3 linked regions of the Homo sapiens genome follow. The protein of the gene in region 2 interacts with the protein of the main gene of each other region in a pairwise test. Each region holds a gene or a part of one and is shown on either strand. Other genes may lie near its edges.

What was found. Proteins that work in one complex are often made in the same cells at the same time.
Region 1: the proteins of SFT2D2 (region 2) and TMEM51 interact in binary tests that used the Homo sapiens proteins (3 or more experiments, as listed by UniProt).
Region 3: the proteins of SFT2D2 (region 2) and SLC30A8 interact in binary tests that used the Homo sapiens proteins (3 or more experiments, as listed by UniProt).

Annotation. Positions count from the first base shown.
Region 1 is NC_000001.11:15,156,726-15,163,751, reverse strand, and holds part of TMEM51 (transmembrane protein 51), read right to left. Parts: intron 1-7,026.
Region 2 is NC_000001.11:168,221,640-168,229,023, reverse strand, and holds the start of SFT2D2 (vesicle transport protein SFT2B), read right to left. Parts: upstream 3,021-7,384; 5' UTR 2,945-3,020; coding exon 2,882-2,944; intron 1-2,881. UniProt on the Homo sapiens protein: May be involved in fusion of retrograde transport vesicles derived from an endocytic compartment with the Golgi complex.
Region 3 is NC_000008.11:117,130,762-117,137,999, reverse strand, and holds the start of SLC30A8 (proton-coupled zinc antiporter SLC30A8), read right to left. Parts: upstream 3,006-7,238; 5' UTR 2,673-3,005; coding exon 2,602-2,672; intron 1-2,601. UniProt on the Homo sapiens protein: Proton-coupled zinc ion antiporter mediating the entry of zinc into the lumen of pancreatic beta cell secretory granules, thereby regulating insulin secretion.

The DNA of each region.
Region 1 (7,026 bases), about 150 Mb from region 2:
AAATCTAAAATTATTCCAAAATTAAACAAAAATTTATTTAAAGGGTCGTGGCTAGGACCATCTCTGGACAGATTAAAAACAAAATGGCTTTCTAATTTTGTTGCTATTATTACAAAAAATAACAGTCTCGAAACTAACTCCTTATACTCATTAACTGTTTTCTTAGGATAAACTTCTAGAATTGAAATTATGGTGTTTTCTAAAGCCTCTGGGCAGTCTAGAAAGAAAAGCAGAAAGAACAGGAAGGAAAAAAGCCGCCAAAGTTCCTGGCTTTGAGCAGGGGTACGAGGTAGGTGGGGGTGGAAAGTAGTTCCTTGTGACTGATGCAGTTGAAGTTGGGGTAAGGCAGCAGTAATAGGTCTGAAAAGATTAACAGAGGCTGACTCTAAGAAGTCCGGGCTTTATAGTGTTGAAAGTTAAAGAGCTTAGCTTTGGCTTGATCCTGCCAGCATAGGGAAGGGGCAAAGATTTCAGATCAGTGCATTTGACATGTTATTGATTTGTTATTTTACTTGTTGGTTTCCTACTTGACTGACTCCTCCCTGCTGCCTAATAAGGTGTAAGCTCCAAGAGGGCAGGAACTGAGCCTGTCTTAGGCACCGTTTCCCCCCAAAGCCTGGAAGAACACCTGGTCTGTAGAGAGAACGCAATGATATGGCCAAATGACTATCTGAGTCTTGTTTCCAAAATGACTCCCCCACCCACCAACTTTTTAGTGTGATAAAATGCACATAACATAAAGTTGACTATCTTAACCATTTTTCCATGAACAGTTCAGTGGCATTAAGTACATTCATACTGCTGTGCAACCATCACCATCATGCATTCACAGAACGCTTTCATTTTACAAAACTGAAACCCCTTACCCATTAAACCCTAACTCCCCATTCCTCTTCCCCCAGCCCCTGGCAACCAACATTCTACTTTCCATTTCTATGATGTCTAGATTCCTCATACAAGTAGAATCATATAGTATCTGTCTTTTTGTGACTGGCTTATTTCACTTAGCATGATGTCCTCAAGGTTCGTCCATGTTGCAGCATGGTGTCAGAATTTCCTTCCACATGGAGGCTGAATAATATTCCACTGTATGGATAGACCACATTTTGTTTATTCATTCATCCTTTGATGGATACTTGGGTTGTTTTCATATTTTAGCTATTATGAGTAATGCTCATATAAACATGGGTGTACAAATATCTCTTCAAAAACCTGTTTTCAATTCTTTTGAGCATTGATATAGTTTGGATATTGGTCCTCTCCAAATCTCATGTTGAAATTTGATCCCCAGGCTGGATGCGGTGGCCATGCCTGTAATCCCAGCAATTTGGGAGGCCGAGGCATGTGGATCACTCGAGGCCAGGAGTTCAAGACCAGCTTGGCCAACATGGTGAAACCCCATCTCTACTAAAAATACAAAAATTAGCTGGACATGGTGGCACATGCCTGTAATCCCAGCTACTTGGGAAGCTGAGGCATGAGAATCGCATGAACCCAGGAGGCAGAGTTTGCAGTGAGCCAAGATTGTGCCACTGCACTCCAGTCTGGGCAACAGAGTAAGACTGTCTCAAAAAAAGAAGAGAAATTTGATCCCCAATGTTGGAGGTGGGGCCTAGTGGGTGTTTGGTTGTTGGGAGTGGATCCCTCTTGAATGGCTTGGTGCCCAAAGATCTGGTTGTTAAAGAGTCTGCTCCCCACTCCTTCTCTCCTCTTCTCTCTCACCACATGACGCCTGCTGTCCTTCTGCCCGAGGCCCTCACTAGAAGCAGATGCTGATGCATCTGAGATGCCATGGGCTAAATAAACCTCTTTCTCTCTTTTTTTGAGATGGAGTCTTGCTCTGTCGCTAGGCTGGAGTGCAGTGGCTCCATCTCGGCTCACTGCAACCTCCGCCTCCCGGGTTCAAGCCATTCTTCTGCCTCAGCCTCCTGAGTAGCTGGGACTACAGGTGCCCGCCACCATGCCTGGCTAATTTTTGTATTTTTAGTAAAGACTGGGTTTCACCATGTTGGCCAGGATGGTCTCGATCTCGTGATCTGCCTGCCTCGGTTTCCCAAAGTGCTGGGATTACCGGCGTGAGCCACTGCGCCCGGCCAATAAATCTCTTTTCTTTATAAATTACCCAATCTCAGGTATTTCTTTACAGCAACACAAATGGACTAAGACAAGTATGCACCCAGAAGTGAAACTGCTGGATCCTATGGTTATTCGATTTTAATTTTTTGAGAAAAATGACTTTTGTTTTTTTGAGATGAGTCTCACTCTGTTGCCCAGGCTGGAGTTCAGTGGCACGATCTCGGCTCACTGCAACCTCTGCTTTCCAGGTTCAAGCGATTCCTGTGGTCAGCCTCCTGAGTAGCTGGGATTACAGGCACCTGCCACCATACCGGGTAATTTTTCTATTTTTAGTAGAGATGGGGTTTCACCATGTTGGCCAGGCTAGTCGTGAACTCCTGACCTCAAGCAATCCACCTGCTTTGGCCTCCCAAAGTGCTGGGATTACAGGTATGAGCCACCATGCCCAGCCCCCAAAATGACTTTTAAGAAGAAACTATATAAAATACTTTTTCCACCTCTGCCTTCAGCATCTGCCCTGAGTGCAGCGTTTCTACACTCAGTATTGGCCTGTGTTAACGAAGCTCTTTTACACCTTGAGGCCTTTGCACAGGCAGTTGCCTCCACCAGGAAGACCTTTGGCGGTGGCGGCTGCACCTGCCCTCCCCGCTCCCCATTTCAGCTCAGACTGCACTCTTTCTGAAAATCCTTCCTGACTCTCCAAGTTTGGGTTAAGCCTCCTCCTTCACGGGCTGTGCTTCCTCATCTTTATTCACATGTTGTTAAGGTACAATCCCTGCTGCCTCCCGTGGGGGATCAGCTCCATCGGGGTGGGGGGCGGGGGCTGACTCTCCCTCGTTCCTGGGCTCAGCGCCTGGCATACCATATGTATCAGGAGATTTGTTTAAAGTGATGGCGCCGGTGTTTAGCTACAGGCAATTTCCCCCAAAAGAAGAGAATTTGCATCTGTCACTGTTTGAAAACAATAATTACCCACAGGCAGTTCCAGTACCTAACTGCTTCTCTCCAAATTGCAGGCAGTTTTAAGGAAGCTGTATGTGAGGCCTCTTATGGTAACTTAAGAAAGTTTGAGTGTTTGTTTTGTTTTTTAAAATCATGTTCTTGCTGGGTGTGGTGGCTCACGCCTGTAATCCTAGCACTTTGAGAGGCTGAGGCAGGTGGATCACTTGAGGTCAGGAGTTCAAGACCAGCTTGGCCAACATGGTGAAACCCTATCTCTATTAAAAATACAAAAATTGGCCGGGCGTGGTGGCATGCACCTGTAATCCCAGCTACTCAGGAGGCTGAGGCAAGAGAATTGCTTGAATCCAGGAGGCAGAGGTTGCAGTGAGCCAAGATTGCACCACTGCACTCCAGCCTGGGCAACAGAGTGACACTCTGTCTCAAAAGAAATAAATAAAATAAAATAAAGTCATTTTCCCTCACCAAATATCAACAAATCATGCCCCACACCCTAACCAGCACAGGCCCAACCTGTGGGTTCCAGGAAAAGGTAGGATAAGGTAAGGCAAGTAAATTCCACCTGCTTCTCTACACCCCTCCCTAGACCACATGTGAGGAGAAAAACATGGAAAAGACATAAAATTGCCCAAGATTTAGAGCCACCTAATTTTACCTGTTGAGGAAATAGCAAAACCTCCTGGAGACATCCAGAACTGCACATCATGTGAGTCCACGATCTTAAAAAAAAGAACTTGCTCCCTGTGGTGAGTTCTCATTCTGCCAGGTTCTGCCAGGATTTGGTGACCCTGGGCTTATCATCTCAAAGGCCTCTCAGGCCAGGGGATGGGCCTGGGAAGCTTCCATTGGTAAAGCTCTGGGGACATTAAAAAAAGAAGAAGGCTAGGTGTGGTGGTTCATGCCTAGGCCGAGGCAGGCGGATCACGAGGTCAAGAGATCGAGACCATCCTGGCCAACATGGTGAAATCCCATCGCTACTAAAAATACAAAAATTAGCTGGGTGTGGTGGCGCATGCCTGTAGTCCCAGCTACTAGGGAGGCTGAGGTAGGAGAATCGCTTGAACCTGGGAGGTGGAGGTTGCTGTGAGCCAAGATTGCACCACTGCAGTCCAGCCTGGCAACAGAGCGAGACTCTGTCTCAAAAAACAAAACAAAACAAAAAAAGAAATGCCAGAACAGGGTTATTAACTCTTCTTTGTTTGAAATGTGGCATTGAAAAAATTAATGCTTTGTGCATCTCAGCAATATAAATTGGGTTGTTGGCACGAGAGCGACAGGCTTTAGGATAAACATGAATTCCTAGTGCACGCAACAGTGAGGCCTATGGGGGTCACAGGCTGCACCGTGAACGTGTGTTTTGAGTCGCTCATTTGTGGAGGGGTCAAGGGTCTACATCTGCAGATTCTCCTCAATGTGAGGCCTGAGTGCTACCTCCCCTGCAGCAAAGGCCCCAGCCTCTGTTTTGTGGCCTCAGTTTCTTCTAGGAATTGAGGAGGCTAGACGAACAATGGCTTCCAACTTTCTGTTTTATTTTTAAAGTCACAGAGTTTTAAAAGTGGATGTTTTGTATCCTTAGCATAAGCCGAGCTTCCTTCCTGTCGGCCCTGCCTCCACCACTCAGCTCTGTCCCTGCAAACCCCTGAGTTGCTTCTAGGACCCATCCAAGGTTTCCCAGGATCACAGTATAACCGGAGCTACATTGCGCAAGGTTCTTACCATGCAGGAGGAGAGACGTTTTTACCTAGTGACTCAGTGCACATCCACAAACAGATAACTGAAAGTTTTACTAAGGAATATTTCTCGTGACAGGAAATGCATGCTATTTTCTAGTCCACTGTCTTCTACTTCACTTTTAAAAATCCAGCGGAAAACCACTCAACGATGCTCAAATCCACTAGTAAGTGGCTGTCCATTCTGTGAACATGAGCTTAGAAAATCCCCAAGATACGAGTACTTCCAGTACTGATGATTTATGGCATTAACAAAGCTGTGATCCTGGTAGAGAGAGACAGAGACCCCGCCCCATCCTGTTCCCAGAATGGGGTGTCCTACCTGAATCACCGATTAGGAAACAAATTCTCTGCACATCTTTGCTATTGAAACGCCTACTCTGCAAGAGCCAGGGTTTGGAGATGAGCATGCCAAATACCGATTTTTCTAGAGACCTGCAACTTGCCTAACCCCATGCCTAATCCCAGGGAGATTTGGGGCAAGGGGCAGTGATGGTGGGGTGGCGGCACTTGGATGGGTTAAAACAAACACAGCAAAAATAAACACATAAAAGTCAGAAGAAACAAAGCTGTCTCCCTCCCTCTGTATGAATTTGGGTCACACGCATCACACCCAGATGGCCCGTGGCTTCCATTTCTAAGAGTTCAGAGAGAATTGCTTTCCCAAACCCCATGGTGATGCAGAAAAACGGCCCTCTGGACTCCCACAGTGGTGAATTGGAAACGTCTTTGCACTTTGCACAGCGTCACAGGGTTTTGGCCAAGGGAATACCTGCTAGCCATCAAGGGGTGGAAGCACGTGAGACCTACAGGTTAGATCCTGCGTGAAGTCACTCACATTATCTCATGAAGATAACAGGCACTGTAATGACGAGTTGAAAAACCAGGATACGGGCTGGGCATAGTGGCTCTTGCCTGGAATCCCAGCACTTTGGGAGGCTGAGGTGGGAGGATCACTTGAGCCCAGGAGTTCAAGACTAACCTGGGCAACACACAGAGACCTTGTCTCTATTTTTTCAAAAGCAACAACAACAAACCAGGACATGAAACAGCTCAGCAAACAAAAACCTGAATAAAACGCCACCATATTAACAGTGGTCGCCAGCCTTCACGATGTCATCTGCTCGTTTTTACAAGGAGCACCTACTTCTTTTGTAATCTGTGGACGAAGACAACTTTAAAAGCCTGCCATCCAAAGACACATTATCAAGTCTGGCTAAGGGAGTGCCAGATAAATGCACTCACTAGCTCATGCCGTGGTGTTAATGCCAGTTTGAACAGACAGGACCTGGAAATGCGCAGACACACTCCTCAATGTGCACACCTCATCTTTCAGGACCCTTGGCCCTTACTCCTCCTGACCATGTCACCACGGATGCCACAAAAACACCTGGTAGTGTGAAGTGCAGACAGAAAGGGGATCTTGGAGGGGGAGGGTGCCCTGTTTTGTTTTTCAAGAATCATCCTCAAAATCATTCAAGACAAACTCTGGAACCTCGGGTTCTGGTCCTGGCTGTGATCTCAGGCAAATCTCCTCTTCCCTGGGTCTTGGTCTCCCCAGTTGTCAAATAAGCAGAGTGGATTTTCTGATGGCTAAGATCCCTCTGGCCCCGATATTCTAAGATCTGAAGCTACGCATTCAGGTTTAAGGGCTGCTAAGTCTGATAAATCCAGGGCAAGAGAGAATGTGGAGACTTTAGGTTGCTCCGCCCAAGTAAACACCACAGACAGAAGGTGAGGACCAACCAGCAGTCTTGAGACGGGAGCTGAGGGGAGGAGTCGAGGGTCAGGGGAGCTCAGCAGAGACCCTCAGAGGGCTATCTCTGGTCAGCATCTTGGGGCTGTCTGGGAGGGACAGGGCTGTGTGGCCTGGTATTGGGAAACCAAACAGGTGGCTTGTTTCTTCCAAACAAACGGCCTGTTTTCTTTCTCAGGAGCAAGAGCTCCCAGGAGGGGTGGCCATGGCAGCGAGGGCTCAATCCAGAGGAAGGGAGAATAAAACATTGGCAGGGGAGGCTGCACCACCTGTCCAGGCTGGGGAGGAGCTCAACTCTATGAAGCCGCTTGAAAGACTGAGAGGTTGAGAAACCTGGGGCCCAAAACAGTCTTGGTCCCGAATGTGGCCAGGTCTCCTGGGTTAAAGTAAAGGGCCCTAGAAGGGAGTCAGGAGGGCTGGGTTCCAGTCCCAGTTCTGCTGCTGAACTGTTGTGTGTCCTTGGGTAAGTCCCATCCCCTCTCTGAGTTTTGTTTGTCAAATGAG
Region 2 (7,384 bases):
TGCAAGTTCTTTTACATTCACACTTGGTCAGGGAAGGAGGAAGCTGTTGTTCCACTTCTCATAACTGGACTCAGTGAAAGCAAAACACTTCTTTTTGCCAAATTATGAAAACAAACTCATAAAATGTCTGTAAATTCATGACTGCTGGAAGCTGTGCTAGCATATTGTTTTTGGAAATTAGAGTAGCTAAAATGGTACCTGGATGGAATTTGTAGGCAATGCGCTCACAGGCAGTCTGACTGGCAGTTATTCACAAAGGTCCCTTTCACTCTGTGATGTGGAGAGAAGAGGGGCTCTTGCCAAGAATAATACTAAGAATTGTTCAGAAAAACAGGATTGGTAACCAGAAGAAGGTAAGAAAGAAATACTGCTTCATTTCCACACTTTAAAATTAGATACTATTCATACCTTTCTTGTCCCCAGAATCCTTTATAAAAAACATAAAACCTATACTTTCAGAAAGAAGTCCATTGAAACTAAAGACTTAAGGTGTATTTATGAAGATGAGGTATCAATCACAAAATTCAACGTGAGGCTATAATTAGATACTGCCATGCAAATTTTATAACTACCTAGGAGAGGTAGGAGAAATAGAACTAGTCACACCTTTATGGTTTGCATTAAAGGAATAAAGGTTTTAAAAAGCACTCTCTTCTAGTGACCTCTTAAAGAGATTTTAAGAGCGCCTAATTCAACTTACCACACAAAATAGCAATTTCCCCACAGAATCCTCCAGTTCTACCAGCCCCCAAACCATGAAAAATATGAGACAATCAAATCAGTACCAATATTTTAAAGGAGGCTCTGACCTAATCAGTAAACACTAAGCTGAAACAGCCTGCAAGATGAAGTTAGTCGGCAACAAAACATTTCCTAGGAATTCAAGACTCTGGAAGTGCCATACAATGATGTTATAAACAGAAATCTCACTCAGAAAGAGGAAACTGACCAACTGACCAAAGTATTTTAAAACAAGAACGAAGCACCTATTCTTTTTAAATTAGATCCAACAGATGCCTCAGCATAACACATTAAAGCCCTTCTCACAGTATCCAACACAGACGTTCACCATTTTAGGTTAAAAACAAGCTCAGCATTTATGTTTGCAAACTTTACTAGTCGTCCACTGTTGAGGGTCAGCCCACTGCTTCGTGATGATTTTCGAGACAATAATATCTGCATCATCCCACTGTCAACACTCCACCCCTCAAGAGTCTGCAGGGAGAGAAAGTGTCTGCCTCTTAAGCACCAATTGTTCATAAAGGCTTGTTGACAGTCTATGGAAATAAAGCTTTAAATAACGAGGGTCAGCTACCTATGAGTCAGACCTTTCTTAGGCCCGGTCTGAGGTTCCACTTGAGATTCATAATAGAGGCTAGAAATCAAGAAAAAAAAACCCGTGAAATTACTCTGAGCCTTGACCAATTAATAAAGGCAACAAATTAAAAAGAACCCACCAACTTGTTTTGAAATATCAAAAAGTTAAATTTCAGTGACTCCAACATTCGATCCCATAGAATTACTCCCTCAAGGTGAAGATTCAGAGAGCAATCTTACATTCGGAGATGTCATGCTAAGTCCCAGTATCACACAAAACAAAACCGAATAAAATCAGCAACCACAAACGTGGGTGAAAGCAGCTTGCTGAGAAAGAAGAACTTGCTGAGAAACCAGAAGAAACACTGATTAGTTTCCAGTTGGCCATATCATCTTAACATCCTCATTTCACAGATGGGGAACGGAGGCTAAAGAATACACCAAAAAGCGAAGAGAAACGTTATTTTGTCATCCAAAAAGGAAAACAAAAGCTAAAAGCACCCTAAATAGAAATGCAGCATTCTGTGTGGTTCTACAACATAGGACATTAGTGGCCAGGTTTCAGCACGATCAAAACTTTTCTAATAGGCCGGGCGCGGTGGCTCATGCCTGTAATCCCAGCACTTTGGGAGGCAGAGGTGGGCGGATCACTTGAGGTCAGGAGTTCGAGACCAGCCCGGCCAAGATGGTGAAACCTCGTCTCTAGTAAAAATACAAAAATTAGCCGGGTTTGATGGCGGGTGTCTGTAATCCCAGCTACTTGGGAGGCTGAGGTGGGAGAATCGCTTGAACCCAGGAGGCAGAGGCTGCAGTGAGCCAAGATCGCGCCACTGCACTCCAGCCTGGGCGACAGAGTGAGACTCTGTCTCAGAAAAAAAGAAAAAAAAGCTTTTCTAATAAAACAAACCAACACGCAGGCAGTCTCCTGAGGCGCTGGGTGTCTAGAGACTAGTTGTGGGCAGTGTGGACAGAGACACAAGATGTGGTCCCTGTCCTCATGGGATGGGGGCAGTTTCTCACCCCCAATCACAAGGCAATGTGTACAGGGGCGGGTGGGAGTGTCACACCCTACAACCTAAACCGGACAGAAAACCAAGGCAGAGCTCGGGGCGCGGCCACCAGCCCCGTCGCGAGGTAGGGACCGCCACCCCAACACCCCAGTCCGGGTCTGGGGCCCCGACCCACCCAGCAAAGGCTCCTTCCGCCTGGACCTCGGGGCCCCCAGCCCTACCCGGCCCTAAAGCGCATTCCCCGGCCGGTGGGGCCGGGGCCGACAGCCCAGTCGCCCACCCTCCCACTCGCAGCTCAGTCCGGGGATTTCCTCCTGCGCCGCCCCCTTGTCAGGGAGGATGGGCTGAAGGGGCGCGGGGCAGAAAAGGACGCCGCGGCCACTGCCCCGTGTAGTGCCAGACCTCTTCGCGGAGCCCTGCAGAAGAAGAGGAGGAGAAGGGGCAGAGCTACCGTCCAGAAACTCCAGGGAGTCCCCGCAGGCTTCCCAGGCCCGGGCAGGGGACGCAGGGCGGGAGCGCGGCGAGAGGGGGCCGACGGCCCCGGGCTCACTCACCTCGGACAGGCCGCTCCGGTCCTCCGTGTCCTGCCCGCTCAGCACCTTCTTCAGCTTGTCCATTGCGGCCCAGTCCCCACCAGCTCCAGCTCCTCAGCGGCAGCCTGTTGCGCTCGCTAAGTTGACGGCTCTTCCGGGTGCTAGGCAGCCGCCCAGCCGCCCAGGCGCCAACCGCGGCGCGCCCCGCCCAGGCACCTGCCCACCGGGGGGCTCCCGGCATGCCCCGCGCGCCCGCGCTCGCCTCCGCTTGTTTTGGTCCCGGGGGGCGCGGCGGGCCGGAGGGGCTGGGATTGAAGACCACCAGGCGCTGCCAAACACTAATTCGGCGTCCAGAGCAGTTTCAAACCGGAACGGGCCGCGCTCCCTCGCCCTACTTGATCCAGTCAACGAATGCCGAGCACCTACCACGTGCAAGGCTCCGGAGACACAAAGACGGGGGAGAAGCCTTGTGCAGACGGGAACAAAGGCTGTGGTTCATCCATATTGCGATCGTGCCTACACAGGAAAAGATTTTCTTTTTAATCACTCAAGGCCTTAGTCTGGTGTGGTGGGGCGTGCCTGGAAGCCCAGCTACTCCGGAGGCTGAGGCAGGAGGCTCACTTGAGCCAAGGAGTTCCAGGCTGTAATGAGCTATGACCAGGATACTGCACTCCAGCATGGGCAACAGAGCGAGACTCTGTCTCAAAAAAAAAAAAAAAAAAAGTGACTGAAGGAATGTTGAAAGGAATAATAGATTGTTAAATTGTTTTGTGTTTGTACAATTGTTTTTTTTTCTGACCTTAAAAAAACTAAAAGTAGACTGGGCATGGTGGCTCATGTCTGTATTCCCAGCACTTTGGGAAGATGGCTTGAGCCCGGGAGTTCCAGACCAGCCTGGGCAACATAGGGAGACCTCATCTCTTCAAAACATTCTTAAAAATTAGCCAGGCATGCTGGCGGGCATCTGTAATCCAAGCTACTTGCGAGGCTGAGGAGGAAGAATGGCTTGGACTCAGGAGGTCAAGGCTGCAGTAAGCCATGATTGTCAGTACAGTAAGCCACTGCACTCTAGCTTGGGCAACAGAGTGGAAACAATACAAATGGCCACCAACTGATTAATGGTAAATAAAATGTGACATACCCATGCAATAAAAAAGAATGGAGTACTGACACATGCTACAACGTGGATGAACCTCGAAAACATTGTATTAAGTGAAAGAAGTGTGGAGCCCGAAAATTTGAGACAGGTCTCAGTTAACCAGGAAGTTTATTTTGCCAAGGTTGAGGAACAGCACCTGTGACACAGACTCAGGAAGTCCTGACGACATGTGCCCAAGGTCGTTGGGGCATAGCTTGGTGTTATACATTTTAGGGAGACATGAGGCATCCGTCAATATGTGTAAGAAGTACATTGGTTGTGTTTGGAAAGGCGGGACAACTCGAAGCAAAGGCAGGAAGACTCAAGGGGGGAGGGGGCTTCCAAGTCACAGATAGGTGAGAGACAAATGGTTGCACTCCTTTGAGTTTTTGATTAGCCTTTCCAAAGGAGGCAATCAGATGTGCATTTATCTCAGTGAACACAGTGATAACTTTGAATAGAATGAGAGGCAGATTTGTTCTAAGCAGTTCCCAGCTTGAATTTTCCCTTTAGTAATTTGGGGGGGCCCAAGATATTTCCCTTTCACAGAAGCTAGACACAATAGACCATATATTGTATGATTTCATTTATAGGAAATGTCCAGAATAGGCAAACCCATAGAAACAGAAAGTAGACTAATGGTTGCCTAGGGATGGAGGAGGGGAAATGGTAGTAAGAGACTAATGGGGTGATTTAAATGTTCTGGAATTAGATTGTGGTAATGGTTGCATGCACAGCTCTGAACATACTAAAAACCATTGAATTGTATGCTTTGAATTAACTGTATGGCATATGAATTCTATTGCAATAAAGCCATTTCAAAAATGCTTAGAACAGTGCTCAGTATATATTTCACAATCCATTAATATTATCTATTGTAAAATGTAACAGGCATCCACTCTTATCTTTCTCCAATGTGTCTGAGTCTGAACCCAGAATATGGGCTCCTGATTTACCTACATTTATATTTGCACATTGTGCAATTGGCCCATTACAAGGTGATTCATTGTAGCATTGTTTGTAATAGAAAAAAATTGGAAACAACTTAAAAGTTCATAAATGAGGGAAGTGCTTAAATAAATTATGGTACATTCATTCACAAGAATACTAAGTAGTCATTAAACACAGAAGAATGAGGAAGGTTTAATCAATGTCTTCAGAAGGTTTTTTCTGACTGTGCCACACCATCCCTTGAAGGATCTTTGTAAACATAAGTCTGACTCATTTGTTGCCCTGCTTAACATCTCCCACAGTGTGGTAAACTGAAAAATGTTCCCCAAAAGATACCCATGTCCTAATCTCTGGAAAGTGTACATGTTACCTTAGACAGTGAAAAGTGGAGTGGGGGTGGTATTTTGTGCAGGTAATTAAGGATCTTAAAATAGATTATGCACAATTATCCAGGTGAGCCATAAATGCAATCATGTATATCCTTATAAGAGGGAAGCAGAGGGAGATTTGACACCAACAGAAGAGGAGAAGGCACTGTGACCACAGAGGCAGAGATGGGAGTGATGCAGCCACAAGCCAAGGAATGCCAGTAGCCACTAGAAGCTGGAAGAGGCAAGGAAAGGATTCTCCCCTAGAGCCTCCAGAGGGAGCATAGTCCTGCCAATAGCTTGTTTTCAGCATTTCTGGCCTCCAGAACTGTGAGAGAATCCATTTCTGTTGCCACCAAATTTCTGATATGTAACAGCAGCTGCAGGAAACTAATGCCCATGTTCCCTACCACCTACAGATAAATTGCTGCTGACTTCTCAGCAACACATACCTTCCTCTTTGGGTTCATCTCTCTCCTTTCTCTCACATACTCCAGGCTCCAGGCATAGGAGACTGTAGTTCCTGAACTCATTGTGTTCCCTACCTTGTCCTGGAAAACACCTACTCTTTTCCATCCTTGTCCCTTTCCCTTCCCCTAACACACAGTTCTCTCAAGTCACCTTATTCTTACCTCCACCATAACACTTAGCACAATATGCTCCATTTGTTCACATTAGGGTCCCTATGGGGCATAGATCTTATTTGTCTTTCCATCCCCAGTGCCAAGCACAGTGCCTGGAACGTATAGTAGGTGCTAAATAAATAGTAACCTACTCTAGTCATTGGCCAGGCGCGGTGGCTCATGCCTGTAATCCCAGCAGTTTGGGAGGCTGAGGCAGGTGGATCAGGAGGTCAGGAGTTTGAGACCAGCCTGTCCAACATGGTGAAACCCTGTCTCTACTAAAAATACAAAAAAATTAGCCGGGCATGGTGGCAGTCGCCTATAATCCCAGATACTCTGGAGGCTGAGGCAGGAGAATCACTTGAACCTGGGAGGCAGAGTTGCAGTGAGCCGAGATCGCCCCATTGCCCTCCAGCCTGGGCAACAAGAGCGAAACTCCGTCTCAAATAAATGAATAAATAAATAACCTACTCTAGTCACTGGTCACATTCTCATTCCCCACTGTGCAATGCAGATGCAAACAAGTCCTCAAGGCTGAGTGATGTACTCCCTCACAGCCTTTCTGTACCTCTGTTTTGCCAGGATGAACAAACAGGAAGCTTTAGATGAAATTTTATGTGCGCTCTATTAAATTTCACCCTCCTCTCAGCAAAAGCTAAACACAAAAAAAGTTCTTACAAAGTCTCTTAGAAGTGTGTGTGCAAGGAAGCTCTAAGGAGTTAGCTTCCAAGGAATAGGAAGTAAGGCAGTTCTCTGAGCATTATTAATGCATGAAATTAACACAGAATTCATCAGGGTGGACATATTCCTACTTGGTTATTAAGAAAAAGCCCTTAGAAAATCATGATTGAATACCTTAATGTATCTAGAATAGGAAAAGGAGAAGGAAAGGAAGGCCATTCCTCAAACTGGTTAATCCTAGGGGCTAGGAAAAGGAGACTCCTAAGGCAGTGTTGGCAAAGCCCATTTAAGCACAGCACAGGTCAGACATAGTTCTGGTGTCTGAGTCCCACATGAAGCAGGTTTATCCTTATCACAATTGTAAGAGCCTAGGCCACCATGCAAATCCTGAACTTTCTTCCTTTTTTTTTTTTTTTGAGATGGAGTCTCATTCTGTCACCCAGGCTGGAGTGCAGTGGCACGATCTCGGCTCACTCCAACCTCCACCTCCCAGCTTCAAGCGATTCTCCTGCCTCAGCTTCCCAAGTAGCTGGAACTACAGGTGTGCACTACAACACCCAGCTAATTTTTGTATTTTTTTAATAGAGACGGGGTTTCACTATATGTTGGCCAGGCTGGTCTTGAACTCCTGACCTCAGGTGATCCGCCCACCTCGGCCTCCCAAAGTGCTGGGATTACGGGCATGAGCCACCGCATCCAGCGTATTCTTTTATTTTGATTTCTTACATACCAAGAAGGCTTCTCCATTATAAAATCTGCTGCT
Region 3 (7,238 bases), on a different chromosome or scaffold from region 2:
AGGGTAAAAAAATATGGTTCATGGCACCTACTGGGTCCAATATTACTACTTCCTGTGGTAAAATGCCTGTAAAGATTACCTCCAGCAATTCCTGTCATCCAATATGCACATGCAATCAAGAGATAGAATCTATTGCCTCACCCATGGAATCTGAGACTTGGGACTTGCTTTAACCCATAAATTGTGATAAAAATGATACTGTGCCAGTTCTGGGCTTAAGCTATCTGAGAATGGTCAGCTTCCACTATTGCTCTCTTGCTACTCTGGACTGTCACATAAGGAATTCCAGGCTAACCAGATAAAGTGAGACATCATACAGGGAGAGAAGCCATGGGAAGAAGAATTAAGACCCCCGCCCCAGGCAAAAGCCAACACAAAGATCTCAGTCATGTGAGTGAAGCCATCTTAAACCTTCTAGCCTAGCCCAGATACCAGCAGAATGCAGCCTTCTATTCCAACTAATTCACATGGAATGCTGCCCAAATCCTGACCCAGAGAATCGTAATAAAATAGTTGTTGTTTAAGCCACTACATCTTGGGGTAGTTTGTTGCACAGCCATAGATAAATGGAACACTCCATTTGTGGAATTAGATAATAAAGTTTTCTTCAGAGTAAGTTTCTTAACAGCCAGTAACCATTTAAATAGAAAGCTGATAATAGAAAGTAGAAAGAAAAAGAGGTAGAAGGAGAAAAGAGGAGGAATATCAGGGGATAAAGTTATCCACAACTAATAGAGACAGAACAAAATAAATGAGATAGATTGGTAGAGGTGGGGGAAGAAGTGAGTAAGTGAGGGAATTCAGGGACATGTGACCTAAGGAGGAGATAGATTAAGGATTCAGGAGCCCACATGGTGCATGTATGGGTACAGGAGATGTAGACGGAGAAGGGGAACACTAAATTAACAAGAAGGGGGCCTGGGTCCACAGCCCAGTTCTGTTGTAATTAGCCATCTGCCCTCAAGAAACACATTTATTCTGACCTCAAGAAAGGCATTTGTTCTATCTGGCATTCAGTTTCCTACATGGTAAAATGAGGGATCGAGATAAATAATCTCTTCCAGATTTAATTTATTTCCCTTGACAAGAAAATACAAATGAGTTTGACAATTCTTATAAACACTGTGTCCTGAAAACCATACCTATTTATGGGGTGAATGAGACTTTGTAACTATAAGTGGTTGGCTTATTTGTGCAACAAAATGCTAATAGTCTATGTTAATAAGAAGGGAAATATTGTTATTTCAGTAATGTGGAGATGCTCTATTGATAGTATCCATAGGGTTAACAATTTTTTGTCCAAAACTTCTGCCTGACTTACCACAAGGCTTTGTTTTTTATGTTAATAACCTCAATACATCATATCTAATATTATTTTCTAAGAAAAATAATTCTTCTAATGTGAGATTGCTAGATTCTTTGTTTTAAGCCAAGTTATAAATATCCTTTTTATAAAATCTCTTTGCTGTTACTAAAATATTTGATGCTCCCAAACATAGTATCACTACTCCTTAGAATATTAGTTTGGCTTTGTGAAACAAACAAGAACATTACACGTATTATTAATGGGCAAGTATTCTCTTAAATTCTTCTTCTAACATCAATTCTTTTCAGATTTTCATTAGCTCATTTATATTCACTGAATGTGTTCCTTTTTTGAACCCCATTCAGATTCAACTCCTCAAACAAACCAAGCTCACATTCTTATGTATGTGAAAGTATATTTACTGTGCAATTATCGAAGTCTGGGAAACTTTCCTTAAAACTATTTTCTATGTAGGTTATCCCTAACCCTACTTTAATTCCTTTTTATTTTTAGCTCTTAGCCTATTACTTCTGAGAAAGCTTCCTCTGATTCCAAAGTCCAGTTATTCTTATTGAACACCCTCAATATGACACAAATACACTGTTTTGTAATTGCCTAGTTCTAATATGTATTTCACATTAGACTAAGTTTCAAGAGGACAAAGATCTGAAACTAGACATTTTTTTCTTTCTCATTATAAGTTCTGCACTTACTACAGGTGTGTTCAATCAATAATTGTTAACCAAGTGAAAAATGAATGAATGTATTGCATGTGACACTGTGGGAGACATTAAAAAGAAATGGAATACTTTGTAGAACATTAAAATCAGCTATATTTGTTATAGGTATGTATATTAATAATGATACTTTATAAGCATGAAAACAACAGCTCATTTTAAGATCAATACAACCACAATTTTGCCATGTAGCTGAAGTCTTAACTTTTTCTAAATATAATATAATAAAATTTACTATCTATCTTAAAATTGAGAATAATTGAGAAAAGGAAAAGTAAACAGATTATATAGGTCTATTTTCTGGAATAAACATGACAGATGAAAAACACATCAGTAAAATGTGTTCTTTATGCACTTAGGATATTTAAGGAATCAAATCAACTATATAAAGTATTGCATTTTTCAGAATATAAAATACATGTCAGTCAACAACTTATAAAATGTTCCAGAGTGCCCCCAAGTTGCAGAGTAAAGGCCTACAATTCAGAAGCAACAAGGTATAGGAATTGGATGATATTCAACAGAGAAAATTGTGAAGCAGACACAGACATCTATTACCTTTCTAGTGTGAAAGCATACATCTTGGCAGCTTTATCATTCACAAGATACGTTCTTTCAAGAAACTCCATGACGGCCAGGATGAGCTGCGGCTGTTGTTGTCGTTGTTGTTGAACTCACTGCCCAGTTTTGGAAGCAAAGCAGCACTGCAATTATTTATACACTTTCTAAAGAAAAAATTAAAAGGCTCCAGAAATTAAAATAATGAGCTTCCTACATCAGTGTTGTTGGTAGGTCTGCTAAAATTACAGCCTCCTTGCAATATTACCTGGCTTCATTGTTTTCACCTACAAAAACTGCTTTTCTAGGGAGACTTGCAGGTAGCATTACATGAAGTGTGTATGTCTTTCATATGATATCTGATTCAATTGTGCTTTCTAAGAGGTAGAGGAGCTCAAGAGCTTGCTACAAATTGCTGATGTAGGGTTTTGACCTTCGGAGCACACGTGGGTGAGCTGCAAATAGCTACCATTCGCTACACTAAACTAATTCTTTCTTTTTCTCTCCCTCCTCCTTTTTCTGGACTCTTTATCAGCCTAAAATTATTTCTTTGGAATTTAGTTCTAAGATGACCTCTAAGCAGCTGTCAGAATTTACTTGTCTCTCCTAGGACCATTTTGGGATTTCACTATTGAAAGGGAGGACAAGGGTCAATAGTTTCTGAAACCAGTAATCTGAAAACAGTTCTTGGTACAGCAGCTTTGAAATCCTTTTGATTGGCAAGAGAAGGACAGACTCTGCTTCTACGTAAATAACAGCCCTCCAAAATACAAGAACCAGAGTGAGCTTTGTTCTTCCTGGCCAAGGTACCCTCTACTAAGGATCAAGGATTCACCCAAGGAAACCCTATCAGGCATGCCAGTTCCAGCTCCGAGGAAGGAAGCCTCTGAGTTGCTCCTGGGAGACCTCACACTCCTCAACTCCTAGGAATCAGCATTTTACTTCATACAAAGCACTTTCCTTCCCAAATAAGAGAAAGAACTATAGCCTTATGGCAAGAGCCTGGACAAACAGTAGGCATTTGTGTGTGGGCAAAAGGTTTCAAGACCTATAAAGATGTACACAACGGTAGAGAAAGAGGGGGTTGTGCAGACTGGAGAACAGGAGTAAACCCCAGACCACCAGGTTCTTGTTGCCTTTTCCTTGTGTGAACACTAACTTTCTAGTGAGAAAACTCAGAGTAGTTAAGTCCCAGAATAACCCAGTGGCCCAGAGTCACGGGAAGTTGCCCATTATGCTGAGCTGAGATCTCTCACAATGGCCTAATAAAATGAATATTGTGCTCTAAAAGGAGGATGGGGTTCAATGCCAATTGTCATAGGCAGTGACAGGAGAAGTCACCTTTGGTTCAGAATGAGACTATTAGGTCTCCTATCACATCTGTGGTGTAGCTGTACCTCTTATTATCTTAAGATTTCAAACACTCTCATCTATAACATAAATTCTAAGGTCTTCTCATATGACCCCACTCTTACTGATCCTTAACTTTGCTCACACAGTTTGGAGCCTCTAAGAGGCTCTGGGGGAGCCTTTTCCTTGCAAGTGAAGGCATTGAAATCCTGGGTCTACTGTTAGCAGAATAAAAACCAATGTATTTTTTCTCGTATATTCTTACTCTTAACCTTACAAAGTAATCAGTTATTCTGTGGAGGCGAAAGTAGAAAACCAGAAAAGAATTACTAATCCACCTGTGTGACACACTGCCATATGTCACAGCTTGAATCATTTGTGAATAGTTTCTAGCACAGACAAGAGAAATAGAATTCAAGTGAATGAATGTCAGAAAATGAGGAAACTACTTTAAATCAGCCTGAAATTCATTAAGGGTGAGTACAAAAAAAAGAGATAAGCAATATTTTCAAATCAGGAAGGAGAATATTTGGCTATAGATATCAACAGGAAATAAACAATCTGGAAGTTTGAGATTCCTCCATGCGAACTTTGCCTCTAGTACAAATACGGATGTACAGATCTATTTATAATTGACATACATACATACATAATTGACATATAATTTATAATGAGTGTGAAGGATACATGCCAGGTAGTTAATGTGGATTGCCTATGGGGCAAGAATAAAGTGAGAGTAGGATGGGGTTGATGTAGGACAGGGAAAAGTGAAGATGGGAAAAGAGACAATGAGAGACCCAAGCAAAACAACAAAAAATACTGCTACCCCCTGTCAAAAATGTATCCTATGATCTCTTCTATTTGTCTATAAGATAAACTATATAAGTCCTATGTGGTCTAATATCAGCAATTTTATATGGTTCAACTTAAATATACATGCACACATATATAGATACCTAAAATATATGTGTGGATATGTATGTTACATTTACTAATAAAAATGTACATATTTATAAAGTACTAGGAAATTAATTATGATTTTCATCAAAGATTTATGAATCCCAAAAGTTACTCTTGAAGATGATTACCATAAAGCAAAGCTTCCAGTGTGAGTAGCATAAGAACAGAGAACAGTAGATTACAGCAAATAAAATTATGCTTAAAAAGTTTTGCTGCCATAAATTTAGATGCAGATGTTATGATCAAGAATTGCATATTATATCATGTAAAATATGCATCTGCTGATCACCTTATTCTCTTACAAGTTCATTTTAACTGCACCGTCATTCCCTCTCTCAAATATTTTGTCATCACAACATTTATGAAAAATCTCTCATCCTCCCTGACAAACCTTTGGTCTACTTTGGCATGAACTGCCCACCAAGGGCCAACGGCCTAACTGGGCTCCACAAGCAGCATAGAATATATATTTGGAAAGCAACTTGGATCAAAAAGGAAAATCCCATCCCCTGTAGACATTGGTTTTAGTGGGCATTACGCTGCTCATTTCAGTTTCCTAGGCAACCAGCTTCCAAACCATCCCGAATTACAGGTTGTCTTCTCCGCCCACTCTCCTTCACAAGCTTGGAGTAACTGAATGGGAAACACACAATCTATAACAGCTACCTGTGGAAATAAGTATTCTGTCAGCCACAAGAACATCACCAACATCACTGAAGAACTGGTTTGGCTCTTCAGTCCTAGCTGTTGTCAGCAACAATTTCTTAATAGGGTGTTACAAACAGTAGCTAATACTTGTGCAAAAATAATTTCACAAGTATCTTAAACATTGTTGGATATTTCACTTGTAGAAAGGACATATGGATTTATAAAAAGCTACCATCATTATCCCTAGATACTAAAGTACCAAGTACTTACAATTTGTGTTCCCCATATTTAAACTCGTATTTCAGAAATACTTCATGTTGCCAATGTGTGCATGCAACCATCTTTTTAAATCAGACATAGAAATGTGCCTGTTTTTAAATAACAAATGTGGACTTTCATCATGTTTTGCTTTTTCCTGTTGGTGTGGAGAGGTAGTGTGGTGAAGTGGTTTAATATATGGGTTTTCAAGTTAGTTAGGTAGACAATTTTAGTTTCCAGTTTGACCACTTTCTTAGATATGTGACCTTGAACAAGTTGCCTGACCACTGTGTTTTTCCGTTTCTCACCTGTAAAATGGGAGTATTAATCGAATCCATCTTACAGAGTTCTTGTGAAGAGGAAAACAGATAATATGTATAAAAGTTCTTAGCATAGTCTCTGATATATAACCAGTTTTATGTAACTGTGAGTTTCTATACACTGGGCCATGTCTAAGTAAAATGTTTTGGCTATTGCTGAGAAATTGGCTCCAGCTTTAGCAGAAGGCTAAGAATTACCTGTGAATGAAGCATCCATCAAGGAAATAAAGGTTATTGAAAAAGGAAGATCTGGGGACTTCAGCTATCGGCTCTATGACTTTGGGTAGATCTCTCAAACCCTCTGGACTCTACTTTCTCAAATTAGATTGATGTCTGCCTCATTCTACCCCCTCACCAGTAGAGTGCCATTCAGAATGATCTTCACTATGGAGCTGTCTTCCACAACAGGGGAGGCAATTCAAACTCAACCAGTGTAATCACCCACTAAAGATTCTGGACTCATGCATTCTCACATAACTATAAAGATCTTATTATTTCTAAGTTGAGTAGTATTTTCTTAGCAAGGTAGCTTTATGGTTATTACTACAGTGTGAGTATTTCAGAGGTTTCATCTAGAAATGTGAAAACAAAGACATTAGAAATTTAATTGGATTGTATTTTAGAGAGCATTATGAAAATTTTATTTTAATCTAAAGTAAATATGTATAAAACACAAACCATTTCCAATATTTTATACACTGCTTGAAAATGGACCGAAAGCAATATGATGTTTATTTCCTTCTTGATAAATTAGGACCATGTAATTTTTTTTACTATTTCTATTTTTCAAGCGATTGAGCTATAGGAATGTTCTGGTGAAAATGCAATTTGTATTTGTTAAGAATAGAAAGACTTGATAAAATATTGATACTAAAAGAATAAAAGAAATATTTTATTAAGTCTCATAGATGCAAATAAATGACAGAAAAATGAACTAGCATTATTTTTGGGGGGAGAAATATTGGGGCTAGCTGCTTGAAGTGTTTATGAAGTGTATATTTCTTCAATTCTTCTCCATATACCACACTTCTTTTTCCAAGCACTTGCAAATTTGAACTAATTAACCCTCAAAAACGCCCTCTAGGTGAGATATGGTTGTTA